Linked DNA regions of Homo sapiens: region 2 is linked to region 1. A link means that fine-mapping ties the variant in region 1 to the expression of a gene that starts in the linked region. Tissue or cell type: hippocampus. Region 1 holds a variant in brackets; the other region holds the start of a gene. All regions are shown on one strand. Distances are between the middles of the regions.

What was found. PIP is the estimated chance that this variant, and not a neighbour inherited with it, causes the effect.
Region 2: it holds the start of SPECC1-DT, and the variant in region 1 is fine-mapped to the expression of SPECC1-DT in hippocampus (GTEx, PIP 0.99).

What each region holds. Positions count from the first base shown.
Region 1 is chr17:20,577,103-20,585,206 of GRCh38, forward strand. CDRT15L2 (CMT1A duplicated region transcript 15 like 2) reads left to right here and starts at 2,622. Exons shown (of 2, transcript NM_001190790.2): 1 at 2,622-2,906; 2 at 3,047-3,809. The coding sequence starts at 2,642. The coding sequence ends at 3,627. It overlaps LOC105371580 (a long non-coding RNA gene), which reads right to left and starts at 2,589. Exons shown (of 4, transcript XR_934315.4): 1 at 1,936-2,589; 2 at 1,525-1,750. It also overlaps the pseudogene ZSWIM5P2. RefSeq lists enhancers at 1,785-2,783, 7,132-7,669. The variant G/A (reference allele first, on the strand shown) is at 4,493.
Region 2 is chr17:20,005,210-20,013,313 of GRCh38, forward strand. It overlaps SPECC1-DT (SPECC1 divergent transcript), which reads right to left and starts at 4,051. Exons shown (of 1, transcript NR_186461.1): 1 at 2,846-4,051. It overlaps SPECC1 (sperm antigen with calponin homology and coiled-coil domains 1), which reads left to right and starts at 4,150. Exons shown (of 15, transcript NM_001243439.2): 1 at 4,150-4,215. RefSeq lists an enhancer at 2,952-3,519 and silencers at 3,952-4,621, 4,642-4,821.

The DNA of each region.
Region 1 (8,104 bases):
AAGATGTGGGCATGATATCATATAGGGTTGCTTTCATATCTATCAAGACCTTAGGTCTGTGATTTTGTGCTTTCTTATATGCACAGAAACTGATTTGTAATTGCAGTGAACTTGTAACATACTAATCCTCCTGCCTTTTTACATTACCATAGAAAACGCGAAACCCAAACCTCCTAATCAAACTGATAGCTTCTTTTATCTCTACCTCAGAATATCAACTATAATGATATATATAATTTTGGGTCTGCCACAGGGGCAGAGTCCTCATGGAGAACCTCTGCTAGAGCAGGGTAGAAGTGAAATGTGGGGTTGGAGCCCCCATACAGGGTCTCCGCTGGGGCACTGCCTAGCAGAGCTGTGAGAAGAGGGCCACCATCCTCCAGACTCCCGAATGGTAGATCCATCAACAGCTGTACCATGTGCCTGGAAAAGCTGCAGTCACTCAATGCCAGCCTGTAAAAACAGCAGTGCCGCAGGGACAGAGCTGCCCAAGACCTTGGGAGCACACATCAGAATGCCCTGGATGTGAGATATGGAGTCAAAGGAGATAATGTTGGAGCTTTAAGATTTAATGACTCCCCTACCAGATTCTGGACTTGCATGAGGCCCATTGGCCCCTTTGTTTTGGCCAATTTCTCCCGTTTGGAATGGGAACATTTACCCAATGCCTGTACCTGTACCCGCATTGCATCTTGGAAGTCACTAACTTGCTTTTGATTTTACAGGCTCGTAAGTGGAAGGGACTTGCCTTGTCTCAGATGAGACTTTGAACTTGGACTTTTGGGTTAATGCTGGAATGAGTTAAGACTTTGGGGGACTGTTGGGAAGGCATAATTGGTTTTGAAATGTGAAAAGGGCATGAGATTTGGGAGGGACCAGTGTCAGAATGATATGGTTTGGCTCTGTGTCCCCACCCAAATCTCATCTTGAATTTTAATCCCCATGTGTCAAGGGAGGGACCTGGTGGGAGGTGATTGGATCATGGGGGTGGTTTGCCCCATGCTCTTCTCATGATAGTAAGTGAGTTTTCATGAGGTCTGATGGATTCATAAGTGGCAGTTTCCCCTGCTCTCCCCTCTCTCCTGCTGCCTTGTGAAGAAATTGCCTGCTTCCCCTTTGCCTTCCATCATGATTGTAAGTTTCCTGAGGCCTTCGCAGCCATGCAGAACTGTGAGCCAATTAAACCTCTTTTGCTTATATATCACCCAGTCTCAGGTATTCTTTAGAGCAGTGTGAAAATGAACTAGTATACGTGAATTCAAATGATAATACTTAAGAGACTCATGTCCAAAAGATAACAGGAGCAGTTTTAGAACAAAACTATAATGAAGGATCTAAAGTGCTGTACTGGGTTCTCTTGACTTACCCAGTGTGCAATGTTATGACCTTGGGCAGGCCCCTTTACACTGTGCAACGTGGGATTCAAATGCGATGGTGGATGGAACCTTGTCCTGAACCTAATTCCATGGGAAGCATTTAACATTTCATCATGACATATGTTTGTTGTAGGCATTTGGTACATACCTTTTATTACCTCATGGAAGTATTCTGCTAAGAGGGGTCTGGTTTGTTTGTGGTTTTTGGTTTGTTTGCTTGCTTGTTTTTTAGAGAGACAGGGTCTCATTCTGTCACCTCAGCTGGAATTCAGTGTTGTGATCCTCACCCACTGCAGCCTTCAACTCCTGAGTTCAAGCGATCCTCCCACCTCAGCCTCCTGAGTAGCTGGGACTGCAGGCACATGCCACCATGCCTGTTAAATTTTTTGATTTTTTTTTTTCAGAATGGGGGTCTCACTCCATTGCCCAAGCTGGTCTCAAACTGTTAGCCTCTAGTGATCCTCCCACCTTGGGCTCCCAAAGAGCTGGGATTACAGGTGTGAGCCACTGTACCCAGGCAAAAGATAACTTTGGAACACCACCTGAGAATGTTACTTACAATGAATCCTGTCCTCATTCTCATTTACTTATTTGGATGGAGTTTCCTGAAATTTGTCTCACTATCATCTAGGATCCTTTTTCTTTCTCCAACTGGGAGATTGTGTCTGGTTTGGAAACTGCAAGCCCTGTTCAGGAAAAGGGAAAAGACCCAAGGCACACACCCAGTCCCCAGGTGATCATCAGGCCCAGGTGAAAACTCAGGCCTTAGGTGCACCTCCGGCCTCAGGTGGACACCCAGGCCCCAGGTGATCACCAGTCCCCAGGTGGACACAAGGCCTTAGGTGAACAACAAGACCCAGTAGGCCATCAGGCCCCAGCTGGATACAGTCCCCAGGTGAACACAAGGCCCCAAGAGGGACATAGGCCAAGGCAGACATCAGGCCCCAGGTGGACATCAGGCCTGAGGACGACATCTGGCCCCTGGTGAACATCAGGCACAGGTGTCCAAGCAGAGCCTGGGTGGACATAACTGTGTACGGGTCAGGAGATGACCTGAGGGGAGGGTGAGTAGTCAGTAACCCAGTGGAGTCCTGAGTAGGCTTATGGAAGGAAGGGGCCTAGGGGACAGAACCGTAAAGAAGCGACCTCACTTCCTCGATGATGACACACACGAAGAGAACTTAGAACTCTGGTAACCAGGCACCCATATCCTAGAGTCAGCGCCGTAACCAGCTCACTTTGTGGGAGACGCTCAAGAGAGCAAGATGTTCTCCTGTTGCTTCCCCACTTCGAGAGGTTGCTGCTTCAGGAATGGAGGGAGTGAGAGCCTTTTCCGACAATGCCGAAGAAGGCTCATCCCTCACCCCAGACGCCTGTGGCCCTTTGTAAGAAGGCGCACCCAGGTACCACAGGACAGCCCGGGGCAGGCCCTAGCTGGCCAGGCCACACCAGAGATCCCATCGGGGCTGCCTCTGCACATTGTCCTTGTCCAGGAGGAGATTCGGGAGCCCATGGAGGCACAGACACATGGTGAGGTGGCTGCAGCCTGGAAGACTTTGCGGGGGCGGTGCTTTTGGGCTGGAATGCCTTTGAATTCAGTGAGGTTGTCTCTGTGTTTGGAAATTCCAGTGGAAAGTGACTGATGCTGGTGACCCTTTCTCCTTTTTCAGCTCCTGGTCCGTACGCAGACATAGCAGCACTTGCGGCACCGGCTGTCGAGCCAAAGCCAGCATGGGAAGAGCCCCCTCCAGAGAGAGCGCTGGAGGTGGAGGGAGCTCCAGCCAAGGACCAGCCCAGCCAGGAGCTGCCTGAAATCATGGCACCTACTGTAGCCACTGGCCTTAATGCTGGAGCTGAAAACGTGGCTGGAGAGAGAAGTGGGAGGGAGGGGGTGACAAGCACAGCCCCAGCCAGCAGATCCCATGCTGCCCCTAGTCCTGGGCATGGTGGCAAACATGGAGGCGGAGACCAGGGCATTCAGACTGGACTCCTGTACCTCGCTGGAGAGAGGCTTCTCTCATTCGCCGGAACCACAGCCCTGCTGCTGCAGGGCCTGTTTATTGTGCTAATTCTGGTGGGGTATATCTCTGTGAAGGTGATGCTCAAGAGCATTAAAACAAGGCTGGGAAGAAGAGTTCCAGCAGCTCCTCCTGCTCTCAGACGCAATCTTCTCCTCCAGGCATGGAAGTGTGTCTGCAACTGGGCATCCAGGCTGTTTGCCCCTAATGTGCTGCCCCGAACGGGCTCTTAACAGGTGGGCAGGGGTTGAGGGGACCAGGAGGTGGCTCCAAAGGGTACAGCAAGGAAAGCTTTTAAAGACAGCTGTTGTGCTCCAGGCTCTCCATGCCACCACCTGCCCTAGCATTTATTAATAGTGTTAGAATTACAAGTTTATGAAATGAAATATAAATAAAGTTTGATTTCTGAAACTTCTCACCTTTTTGAACTCCCTAATGTTAGATGGTGTTTTTGAGGCTATCCTGAAAATCTCGGATAGTTGTGTCTTTTGTTGTGGTTGTTTGTGTGGCTGAATTACCATCGAGTCATCTGTTATTGGAAACCTTTCAGGTATGGCTTTTAGAAGACCTTGACCCACTCTTGCCTGTTTTGACTCTCTGGTTTATTGTGGAAAGAGGGATGATGTAGGCTCATGTCTCCGGCAGATCAATCACCTTTTGCCATCAAGGATTTGGCATCAGAGTTTCCAAGAATTATGTGTGCAAATTGACATGCTGGTACTTTAGCTAATCTGGGTGTCAAAACAGAATGCCATAGACTAGGTAGCATAGAAAATTGATTTCTCACAGTTCTGGAGATGGTAAAATCCGAGGTCAAATGGTCAGCAGATTCCGTGTCTGCAGAGGGCTGGCTTCCTGGTTCATAGACAGCCATCTTTTTACTGTGTCTTTACATGACAGAAGGGGTGAGGGAGCTCTCTGCAGTCCCTTTGATAGGGACACCAATTCCATTCATGAGGTCCCTGCCTTCATGAACCGAATCACCTTCCAAGGCCCCACCCCCAAATACCATCACATAGAATCCAACGCATGAATTTGAGGAGGACAATAACATTTGCTTTATAGAATCAGGTCACCCCGAGCCATATGCACTCACAG[G/A]AAATCTATAATCTTCTATTAAGTATTTGCTGGTCCCCTCTGGGGATTGTCTAAACAAAATTGTCTAAACAAAAATTTAGACAATTTTTGTTTTCTTTAAGAAAAATGCTCTTTCATGTGATCCATGGTTTATTCATAGAAAGCACTGTGAGTTCACACACTTGCTAAAAAGAAGGACAATTGCGATACAAAAATGAGAGTGACCTCCCTCTCTCTCTCTCTTTTTAACCAATCAACTGGGCTGAGACATTGTAGGGACCCTTGGCTGGGCAGTAGGACTTGAGTAGCTACATACGGCAAATACAACTTCTTGCTCAGTTTGGAGTAGAAAAGGTGACAGTTTGTCAACAAAAGAAAAAGTAAAGCAGATGGAGAAGTTCTTAGTTCGCATTCTAGCTATACCACCTCTTCCTTATCAAACCCCACCCCCAACTCAGGATCTAACATGTAAAAGAGTAAACACAAAGGCACTGGTAACCAACTGACTCTTCTGAATGCCCTTGCTATCTCCTACAACAATTCCAGGCTGAGCATAGGGGTCAGGAAGGTAGCAGGAACATGATGATACACTGTGGAGGTCAGCCAGGGCTAAGACAGGGCTGCTCATTAGGGCTAGAAATTAAGAAGGGAGAGGCTAAGTGCAGACCAGCCCTAGCCTCCAAGTCAGCACGCAATGAGACTGTGACAAAAGCAGGCAGAGGAAGCTTGACGTAGAAAGGCAGGGGAAGAAAGCAAGTACGGGGCGAGAAGGGAAATGTGCAGTGAAAGCAGCCAATCTGATGGCAGAGGGAGACCGGTGCTTAGAAGCTTGTTTGGTGAGAGGGAATAAATAGAGGAGGCACAGAAATGGGGAACAAACATTTAACTAGTGAGAGAGATTTAAGACGAATGGGAAGAGAAATCTCGCAAAAAGGACACATTCATGCAGATCCTCAAAGATGGACACGCAGTCATCCCTACATGTAGAAATATGCTCAGTTACACATATAAAAACACAGATGCATGGAGAGCAAGCATACACACAGACGCATATCTCTACACATGCACTCCTGTGTGCCCAGATACACACACACTAAACATGCAAAACATGACAGCATTTACACATAGATATGCACCCTCACATGTGTGCAAATGTTACATCCTCACACAGAGACCCACATTCCAGTGTGCACATATCCACACAGGTACACAGCCATAGAACTGACATACATACACATCAACATATAATGTGCACATACAGACAGGCACGCGCAGATATATCTATGCACATAGACACATGTACTCAGTCATGCACATACACACACTTTCTAACACAAAGGTGATCAGTGTAGATGAATATTGTGAGCTCAGTGGCTTCCCAGACCTTCATCTTTTCCCTGCTCTTGTTTCAAAGGTGCTCAGCAGACTCCTGGCGAGGCTGTGTGAGGCAGGGGCAGGACCTTCAGAGTCCTCACAGCTTTGTGAGGCAAAAGTCTGAGTCCAGTCCTGGCCTCTGCTGCTCACCCACCACTGGGCTATTAATGCCCTGTCTGTAGGCGAGAGATTCTGCATAGACTAGTCTTGGGATTTTTTTCTAACTGGCCATTTTTCTCCTTGGCACACCCACTATCCCACTGGTAACGGCACACACTCTGCAAGGGAAACCTGAGAAATGGTTGTGAGTCTCCTCGGACAATAAGCATACCCTCCCACCCACAGCTACCTCAAGTGCCCAGCAAATCAGAACCAAAATTATAAATACTTACGACTTTACAGTAATTGGCAACACATATACTATAGTACTTACAGTACCTTAAATGCATCTGTTTCTCTGGTGAAGCAATCTCTGAGATGGAACAGTGTTCTGTGTTTGCCAAGGGAGACAGGGCCAATGCCCAGGACACTCAGGACGTAGGGGCATAAGGTGGCATATCGTGGGGGTTTCTGGTCGATCTGCAAGGCCCAGCTTCTCCACGAACAGTGGGCTGTAGTGAGAAGCTTGCCAAGGTATGCATACCGACTGGAGTTGGACTCTCCCCATCCTTAGCCCTGTGGTCCTTTGGCCTCAGCCACAGGTGCTCAGAGTCCTCCCAGGGTGGACAAATGTTTCAGTGTTTTTGGCCTGACCTGATACTACCTGGGGACCCAGGCTGCCGGGCCGGTGAGCTATCTGCTTTCTCAGTCAAAGGGCTCTCGAACCAGCAGCATCAGCTTTTTCTTGCCTTTGTAGATCGTTTGTGGTTGTTGATGAACAGGGCAAATTGCAGGTAGCCATCCTAAGGCAGCAGGAGGGTCTCCCGAGCCTTGCTTAGAAACTCAATGAACTGTCCATACTGGCAATGGCTAATGTGTGTTAGGTGTAGTGTGTGGTGTTGATGTAAGCATTGCATCAGCAACTGGTGCCATGGAGCTCTGTCAGTGGAGATGAGCTTTCCAGAGCTGTGGTGGCCCGGGGTGCCGGCCAGGCCAGGTGCAGTCACCGTGCAGCCTCGCACACAGGATGTCTGAAAGCACCATGGCAATGTGCGCACTCTTCACCACCAGGGGGATGAGAACTGCCAGCTCATTCTTGCCCAGAGAGTGGCTGAGGGCACAAACCCAGAGCACATCACTGATGGCTGGGTGGGTATCCTGGTTATGAGCCAGGTGAAGATGGCTCATGGCCAATGAGACCAGCTTGAAGGCGTGGAGCGTGTAGCCCTGGAGCTCCACGTAGCAGGCAATGGTGAACAGCTGTGAATGGGTCATGCCACCGGCAGCAGCCTCGGTGGCAATCTGGCAGGCTGCCTCAAAGGCAATGTGGTCTTTCTCACAGAGTGTAAGGGCTGACAGGGCACAGCTCTGTGGATGCTTCGTAGCACACTGCAGGGCCAGTGTGCAAGCACAGCTGGCCAATTCCTCCCGCTGTGGATAGTCAAGACTGAGGCGCAGGATAGTGGTGTGGGATACGGCTGTGGCAGCTACAATGCTAGCAGCCTCAGTAGGGGTGAAGAGTGTGTGCCAGCTCTGCAAGATGCTCCCTGAGGCCCACACACCTGTCGGGGAGAGCCTGAGCTCAGCCGTGGCCATCTCAGTCCTGATTCAGGTCGGCCCAGATTACCGTGTGGGGTTTGAACTTGGCCTGCAGAGATGAGTTCTCCCTCCTCCTCAGCAACCTTGACATGATCTGAGGCAAACCAGGGCAAGAGAAGCATCCCAGATGGCCAAACCTTGTTTGGGGTCTCTTCCTATCCCTTCCTTACCCAGGTCAGAGGGTTGAAGGTTTCTGCAGGTGCTCTCAGCCCCTCACAAGGATGGAGCAGTAGATCCTGGGGTTTGCTTAACCCAAGGCCAGGGTTGCAGATCTGCCAGGGGTTCTAGCTGAAGTGGGGCCTGTCAGGGTAGAGTCTTGTGCTGGGGCTTTGGGCTTTAGAAAGGGTCCTGAGCCTCCAAGGTGTCTGGAGTTTCTCACAAGCATGGACAGGGACGGGGACCAAACCACCAGGCCCACTACCTCCCAAGGGCACACTTGAGTATTGGCAGCTGAAAATTCATTCTCTTAGACATGTCTCTGATGAGAGGGTCAAAGTGCTGCTGACATCAGCATGTGGTTGGTTTAAGCAGTGAGGACAGAACTTGGGCTGGCTGAACAGA
Region 2 (8,104 bases), 570 kb before region 1:
GAAACCCTGTCTCTACTAAAAAGACAAAAATTAGCCAGGCATGGTGCCACGCGCCTGTAGTCCCAGCTACTTGGGAGGCTGAGGCAGGAGAATTGCTTGAACCCGTGAGGCAGAGGTTGCAGTAAGCTGAGATTGCAGTGAGACTCTGTCTCAAAAAAAAAAAAAAAATTAAATCTATAGAGTCAATCTATTGTGTCCCAGGAAATATTGGCCCAGAATAATAATTCCAAAATGTATAACAGTGAGATTTCTGGATTTCATAGACAAAGAGATAATTCTTGGAGCATCATGGCAATTACTTCACTTCTTTGTTTTTTTTTTGTTTTTTTGAGACGGAGTCTCACTCTGTCGCCCAGGCTGGAGTGCAGTGGCGCGATCTCAGCTCTCTGCAAGCTCCTCCTCCCAGGTTCACGCCATTCTCCTGCCTCAGCCTCCCGGGTAGCTGGGATTACAGGCGTCCACCACCATGCCCAGCTAACTTTTTGTACTTTTAGTAGAGCCGGGGTTTCACCATGTTAGCCAGGATGGTCTCAATCTCCTGACCTCGTGATCCACCTGTCTCGGCCTCCCAAAGTGTTGGGATTACAGGCATGAGCCACGGTGTCCGGCCGGCAATTACCTCATTTCTGAGGAAAAATAAACCAGGCTGACTTCTGGTTTCATTACAGCAACACTCAATTCTAGAAGACAATACTTATACATTCTTCAATAAATAAAGTATAACCCAAGAATTTATACTCAAACTTTTACAGGATAAAGGCAACAAATATTTTTAAACATGAAAAACTCAGGGAATATAATTTTCATAAGTTATTATTGTTATTTTAAAGAGATAGGTTCTCACTTTCTTGCCCAGACTGGGGTGCAGTGGCACAATCAGAGGTCACTGCAGCCTCAAACTTCTGGGCTCTAGCAATCCTCTTGCCTCAGCCTCCTGAGTAGCTGGGACTATAGGCACACGCCACTACGTCTGGCTAAATTTTAAAATTTTTTGTAGAGACAAGGTCTCACTATGTTGCTCAGGGTGGTCTTGAACTGCTGGCTTCAAGCGATCCTTCTACCTCTTGTCTCCCAAAGTGCTGGGATTACAAACGTGAGCCACCACACTCTGCTCTATAAATTATTCTTAAGAAACTAAAGCAGGATCATAACTTACCACAAAATGGGTTGGGGAAAAAACTATGGCAAAATAACTGTTAATAATACTTCTGAATCTTTTAACTGTAGGAGTGGAACTAAAACAAACGTGGGATTATGGTTACACAGCAGAATGTATGATTTTATAAACCTACTAACGTGGAAATGGTATAATTAACATCTTTTATATCTAGGAATCCAAATATCTCATTCAAAGCTGATTTAAAAATCAAGTGATAAAGATATTTATAAATGTAGTTAATTAAAAAAGCAAATACTAAAGAAGGATAAAATCATTTACATTAGGTGAGGAGAAGAAAAGGGGTAAAGAAAAAAGAGGGAAATTACAATGTCATTTTTATTCAGAATAGGGAGTTAACAGACAGTCTGAAGAAACTGAGGACGATGTGTATTGCGGAGTATGATTATAAGGCAACTCCCTGAATAAAAATACAAACCTTCCAAATTATCAGAAGAAACACAAAACACAATAAACACAAAATATGCAATGCAAGAGTGAAAAAAGGACCAAAAGGGCTATGAAACAGCATAATATAGCTGTCACATGAATAGGGCTCAACTCATCTATGGCAAGATAAAGATTTTCAGATTTAATCACAAAGCAAAACTTAGTGCTCTAATTCAAGGGATTACCTAAAATAAAGGGTTCAGAAAAGACGAAAACAGCAAAGGTTGTTTGGGGTAACAAACAAAATTCAGCAGGATGGTAAAATATCAGACAAAGTTAAATTCAGGGCAAAGTTTGAACACATTAAATGAGACAAGGAAGGTCATTTTATGATGAAGTGGGAAAATTCCCAAGAATATAAGACAAATGAATATTTATGCACAAATAACATGGTACTATTTATAAAGCAGGACTTCAGAGAAATAAGGAGAAATAAAAACACAATAGTAACAAAAGATTCTAATTTACCTTCTTCCGATTACGTTAGATCAAAATACGTCTAAAAAATAAAGGAGAAAAAATATTTTAAAAAGAAGAAGAAAAAAGCTCCAGTATAACCAAAAACATAAACCTAAGAGCTGATTCTTTGAAAAAAAAATACACTTTTAAAAGTTAACAAAATAAAGAAGCAAAAATACACAAAATAAGATATTTGGGAGAAGTTAAAAGATTCACAAAAGACTACTTTCCTCAACTTTATGCAAATACACTTGAACATCTGGAAAAAAAGGATAATTTGTTTTAAGAAATACATGCTTTATCAAAATTAACTCTAGAATAATTTTTAAAATGTAAATAATAAAATTGCCACAGAAGAAACTTTTCTAGCCTTAAAAGATTTACCCTCCCCAAAGAAAGCATCAGGCTGGGAGGAACATTTTTAACTGGGAAATGATCAAACCTCAAAGAATAGATAATTTTAATGCTCCTTAAATTGTTCAGAGTAAAAGGAAAAAGCAAACATGCCCATTTTTTTTTCTTTTTTTTTTTTTGTAGAGATGGGGGGGTCTCACTGTGTTTCCTAGACTGGTCTCGAACTTCTGGCCTCAAGCACTCCTCCTGCCTCGGTTCCAAATTTTTTATGATGTGAGCATAACATTGATTCTGAAACCAAACAACATTAGACATTCAAAAAGAAAATTATTGCCCATCTCATTTTTGCATATCAATGCAAAGCCTGTAAATAAAATATTAGCAAACAGAATCAAGCAGTATATTTAAAAAAAAAAGACAAGTTTATTGCAGGGATAAACTGGGTTTTTATTAGGAATTTATTATAACTAGGACTCATTACTTCAATATGAGGAAATCAGCTGTCACCCGGTTTGCTCGTCCTTACAGACATCTCCCTCCTCTTCCTCTCTTCCTTTCCAGTGAAAATGTCTTCAAGTTTCCTCTACCAAACCAAAACTTCACCCCACTTCTTTTATTCTTTCCTCCTCTCTTCTCAGAACAAAGGGGTTGTTGCTGACCAGCCCAGGGTTTCTTATTTGGGGCCGGATCATTCTTCCTTGTGGGGCAGTCCTGTCCTTCAGGTAGGATGTTGAGGAGCACCCTCGTGTCTACCCACTTAGGCAACAGTAGCAACTCCCGCATCATGACAACCAAAAATGTCTCCAGACCTCCCCAAATGTACGCGGGGCGGCGAGGAGGGGCAACACCGGCCCTGGTCGAGAACCGCTAGCCTAGGCTCGCCCCTCTACCTGGGCGCCACAACTTGCCAGGGTTGGTTATTCTCCCTGGATCCTTTCCTTCCTCCTCATTTGAGCTTCACGCCCTCAAGTATGACCAAAGGTTCTGTCATTCCACTCCTGCAGTTTTCATTAAGGTCTTAGGCCACTTCCATGTCAAGAAACACAGTGGCTCTTTCTAACCCCTGGCCATGAGGCACCCCTGGAGGAGGAGCCGTGAGGGTAGGGAAGATGCTGAGGGGGATGTTGACCTTGCCGACTTCCAGGCGCCTCCGCTGCATCCCGGAGGAGGCGTTGGGCGGTGAGGGTGCAGCGGGGGGGCGGGCCCCGCAGGATGAGGTGTCCGTGTGCGGCTAGCGCCACAGGCAAGACCGGGCTCCTTGCGGGGCGGAGGTGAGGCCGTGAGCATAGCTCTCAAACTGGAGGGCGCCTCAGAATCACTTGACGGGCTTGCGAGAATGTGGACTGCTGGGCCCCACCTTCATGGTTTTAGTGCAGGAAAAACCGAATAGGCTGGGTGGGACGGAGAATCTGCATTTTCTCAAGTTCCCAGATGAGGCTGAAGCTGCTGGTCCGGGCACCACCCTTAGAAAACCTCCAGTGTAGAGTGCGGAAATGGGGTCCACATCTGGCTTGGGACGCCCAAACATCGATTATGTGCGACCAGAGGATGAGCAGATAGGGAGATGAGACACTGAGAGCTGGGAGAGAGGGGGCCCCCGGCCGCCGGCTGAAGGAGGACGGCGCAGGCGGCGGTCCGGGTACTACATCTCCCAGCGAGCCCCGCGCGGCTCGCGCTCGCCCCCTGGCGGCGATGGCTGGAGGCGCCGGCGGAGCGCGGGTCCCTCTCCTGAGCATCAGTGAGCGCCCGGAGCCGTGGCCGCTGGGGGTTGCGGCGGCGCTGAGCCAGCGGGGCCGGTGAGTACTAGCCGCGCCGCCAGCCCGCCCGCCGGCCGGCTCTTTGCGCCTCAGCCGCGTGGTCTGAAGGGATGGGCGGGCGAGCGCGGGGGTCCGGCAGTCCGTCGTGGGGGCACGGGACTGCCTTTCTGGGAAGGCGTGCTGCGTCTTCGCCGCGGGGGCCCCGGTCCCCTCGTCGCGTGTCCTGTCCCCAGCCCAGGAGGGACGTCCTGGCCTGTCCTGCCCGGCCCGGAGCGGTGGGACCGGTGCCGCAGGTGGCAGCGGCAGGTGGCCGCCTCCTCCCCTCCGGGCCCGAGGGTTGTCGCAGGGACCCGGGACTGAGAGCCAGGTGGCTCCCGACAGCTGCGGCCCTGGAGGCGACCCCAGCCCTCGCCGCAGTGGGACAGGTGCGCGGGCACGCCCGGCCCCGGCTCCTGGGTCTCGGGAGCCTCCCGCACCCTCCCTGTTGTGCCTTGGGGGTGCTGCGTGGTGCAGAGGACCGAGAAGCCCTTCGCCCTCGGCGTCCGCCGCGCTCCCGCCCCTTCCTGGCCGGGGTGACAGGGGAAGGGCTAGGGCTGCGCATCCCGGGTCAGCTGGGGCGCCGCGGCGCAGTGCACCTGGAAGGCCCGGGGGCAGCGCGCGGTGCCCGTGGGTTTCCCGGTGGTGCGGACCTGCGGGCGTGCGGAAGTAACGACCTCCTTCCCCAGTGCCCATGCAAGGAAATTAGTGTTATGTGCTTGCTTTTTTTTTTTTTTTTTCCTAAGGAAGTTTGACTCTGAATATCTTATTTTGCTGGAGCTCCATTTGCCAGCACGTAAGTTTATGTAATAAGCGGCATACAGTTCGGAAAAAAATTTTCCTGTGAAAGTGCTCTTCCTTGCCCTCTGCAGGAAGAATTACGCCGAGCTGGTTGGCAGGCTTATCCACCAGCAACTGTAGGAGCTGCAGGCAGCAGATAAAGTGTTTTTTGAGTAAGGGCACAAGTCAGCCCTTCAGGACAATTTTTGTTTTTGGAAGATTCTGTTATCCAGTTCCAAACACCGTGTTATTTCAGTGTTGAAGATGGGGGAGGAGGGAGGAGCACAGGCTTGTCAATCCTAATACCTCAACAGAAATTAGCTTTGCAGGATTAACTCTCCAAGCAAGCGAGTTGAATTTGGTAGCCCAAACTACAGCTGAAGCTGAGCCTCCATACTAAAGCCTGTCTCAGTTTTAATAGTTTTTCGCTTGATTCGTTTGCCTCTTCCAAGTAGGTGATCTTATTGTCTGTTAAACAACAGATGTCTCTCATGTTTTTACTTTTTTCCTTGTCTTCCATAGATTACTCTCGCTGCAGTGTTGACTATTGAGGTTAAATAGGAATCTTTGTCTTGGGCTTGGTTTTAGGGAGCATTCCCTCTGTATCTTCACCGAGTGTATTCTATCACATTAAGTACATTTCTGTTTATGCCTAATTACTAAGAGTTTAAAAAGTCAAGGGTGGGTGTTGGGTTTTTTGCCCAAATGCTTTTGTGTAGCATGCATTGATATGATCATGTAGATTTTCGTCTTAAAATTGTTAACATAAGTGGTGGTCACATTGCTAGATTTTCTTTCTCTAAAACCCTGGGCTAATTTAAAATGCACTTTTGGATTGTTCACATCAATAAGCTAGCATCTTATTTAGGGTTTTGGTATCTGAGTTTGGCATATAGTTTACCCCATTTTTATCTGTGTTCATAACAAGGATCAGGCTGTCCTCTCTGATTAAATTGGGAAACTTTCCATCATTTTCTATGCTCTGGAATAGAAGAATTATCTGTTCCCTCAAGTTTGGCAGAACTTGACTGCAGACTGCCTGGGCTGCTGCTGGTGTTGTTTAGGCAGTTAATATCAGTATTTAATTACCTTTTCATTTTTTTCATGATCATTTATTTTTCTCAGTTTTTCTGTTTCTTCAAAGTAAATTTAATATTTTCTGTTTTCCTAGAAAATCATTAACATTATTGAAATTTAATATATGCTAGCATAATGTTGTATATAGTATTCTGGTGTAAGAAAACAGACTCTTACATATCTGTATGTATCTGTATGTTCTCTTTCTGATACAGTACTTTTTTTGGTACCTTTTCTCTTTTTTTTTGATCAGACTTGCTTAATGATTATTTTATTAATCCTTTCAAAGAACCAGCTTTTATTAACCAGGATTTATTGATTAATTCTATTGATTTTTTATTTTTCTATGACATTAATTTCTGTTTTTTATCTTTCTACTTAATTTGAGTTTATTTTGTTCAAGTTTTAACTGTTTGAATGGAAAACCTGGCTCATTTATTTAATCAGTCCTGTGAACAAGGCAAGGACTTCTAATTCTTTCATTCCACTTACCTCACATTTGGCCTTAATTGTATTTTTACTTCAACCCTTCCAACGAGACATTATTGCTATTGTTTTTGTTATTTTCTAGGTCAACATTTATTAGCTTTATCTACCTGTTTACCATTTCTTCACTTTCCATTCCTTCTTGTATCACAGATACTTTTCTTTGGAACATTTTTCTTCTCCCTCAAGTACATTCTTTAGAAATTACTTCAGCAATGATCAATTTTCTGTTTTTGTAATATCTGAAAATGCCTTTATTCTCCCTGTATTCTAGAATTTTGGTTTCACCATGTGTCTTCTATTGATTTCAGAGTTATTTTTGTATTTTTTTATATTTTTAAAAAGATGTTTTGTAGCTGGAAGGTTTTTAGGATCTCTATTCTGCCACAGTGCTGAAAGAAAAACAAAGATTAAGAACAGATTAATTTGCAGTCCACTGTCAGTCACGACTGTTCCCTGAACTCTTAGTATATTGGGTATACAGTTCTATATTAATCTCAAGTTTATTGATGGTAATTCAGGTTTTCTGCATCCTTAACTTATTTTTTTTCTCTGTTTGACCTGTTGATATGGAGAGTTGTATTGAAGACTCCCATTATGATTCTTGTAGGGGTTTTTGTACTATTTCTATGTTTAATATATATTTTTCTTTAAATGTTGTATTTTTGAAGCTGTTTTATGTGCTTAAAGGTTCACAATTCTTGTATCTTCTTGGTGAATTGTACCTTTTGGGAATAAACGAGCCATCTTATTTAATTTTTTTTTTGTTCATTCTCTTTATATTGCTGTACTTGCTTTTTGTTAGCATTTATATGGAATATCTTTTTCTAGTCACTGATTTTCAATTTTCTGTGTCTTCTTTAATTGTTACTCTTACCATTAGCTTATGGCTGGATTTTGTTTAATTAGTTAATCTTTGTCTTTTAATAAATATTGTGGTAAAATAACATAAAATTTATTATTTATTATTTTTATTTTTACCATTTACTACTTTTAAGTTTACAGTTCCCCAGTGTTAAGTGTGTGCACATTGTTATGCAACCAATCTCCAGAATTTTTTCATCTTACAAAATTGAAGCTCTGTATCCATTACCGCAGCCCCTGGCAACCACCATTCTGCTTTTTGTCTCTATGAATTTGCCTATTTTAGGTACCTTGCATGAGTATCTAATATAGTACCTCATATAGTATTTGTCTTTTTATAACTGGCTTATTTCATTTAATGTAATGCCCTCAAGGTTCATCCATGTTGTAGCATGTGTCAGAATTTTCTTCATTTTTATTGCTAATTAATATTCCATTGAATGTATACACCACATTTTGCTTATCCATATATTTATCAAAGGATATTTATGTTGGTTCCACATCATAGCTATTATGAATAATGCTGCCATGATCATGGGTGTACAAATATCTCTTCAAGACCCTGCTTTCAGTTATTTGGGTATATACCCAGAAGTAGAATTGTTGGATCAAGTAGTACTTCTATTTTTAATTTTTTGATGACCCAGCATAGTGTTTTCCGCAGAGGCTGAACCATTTTATATTC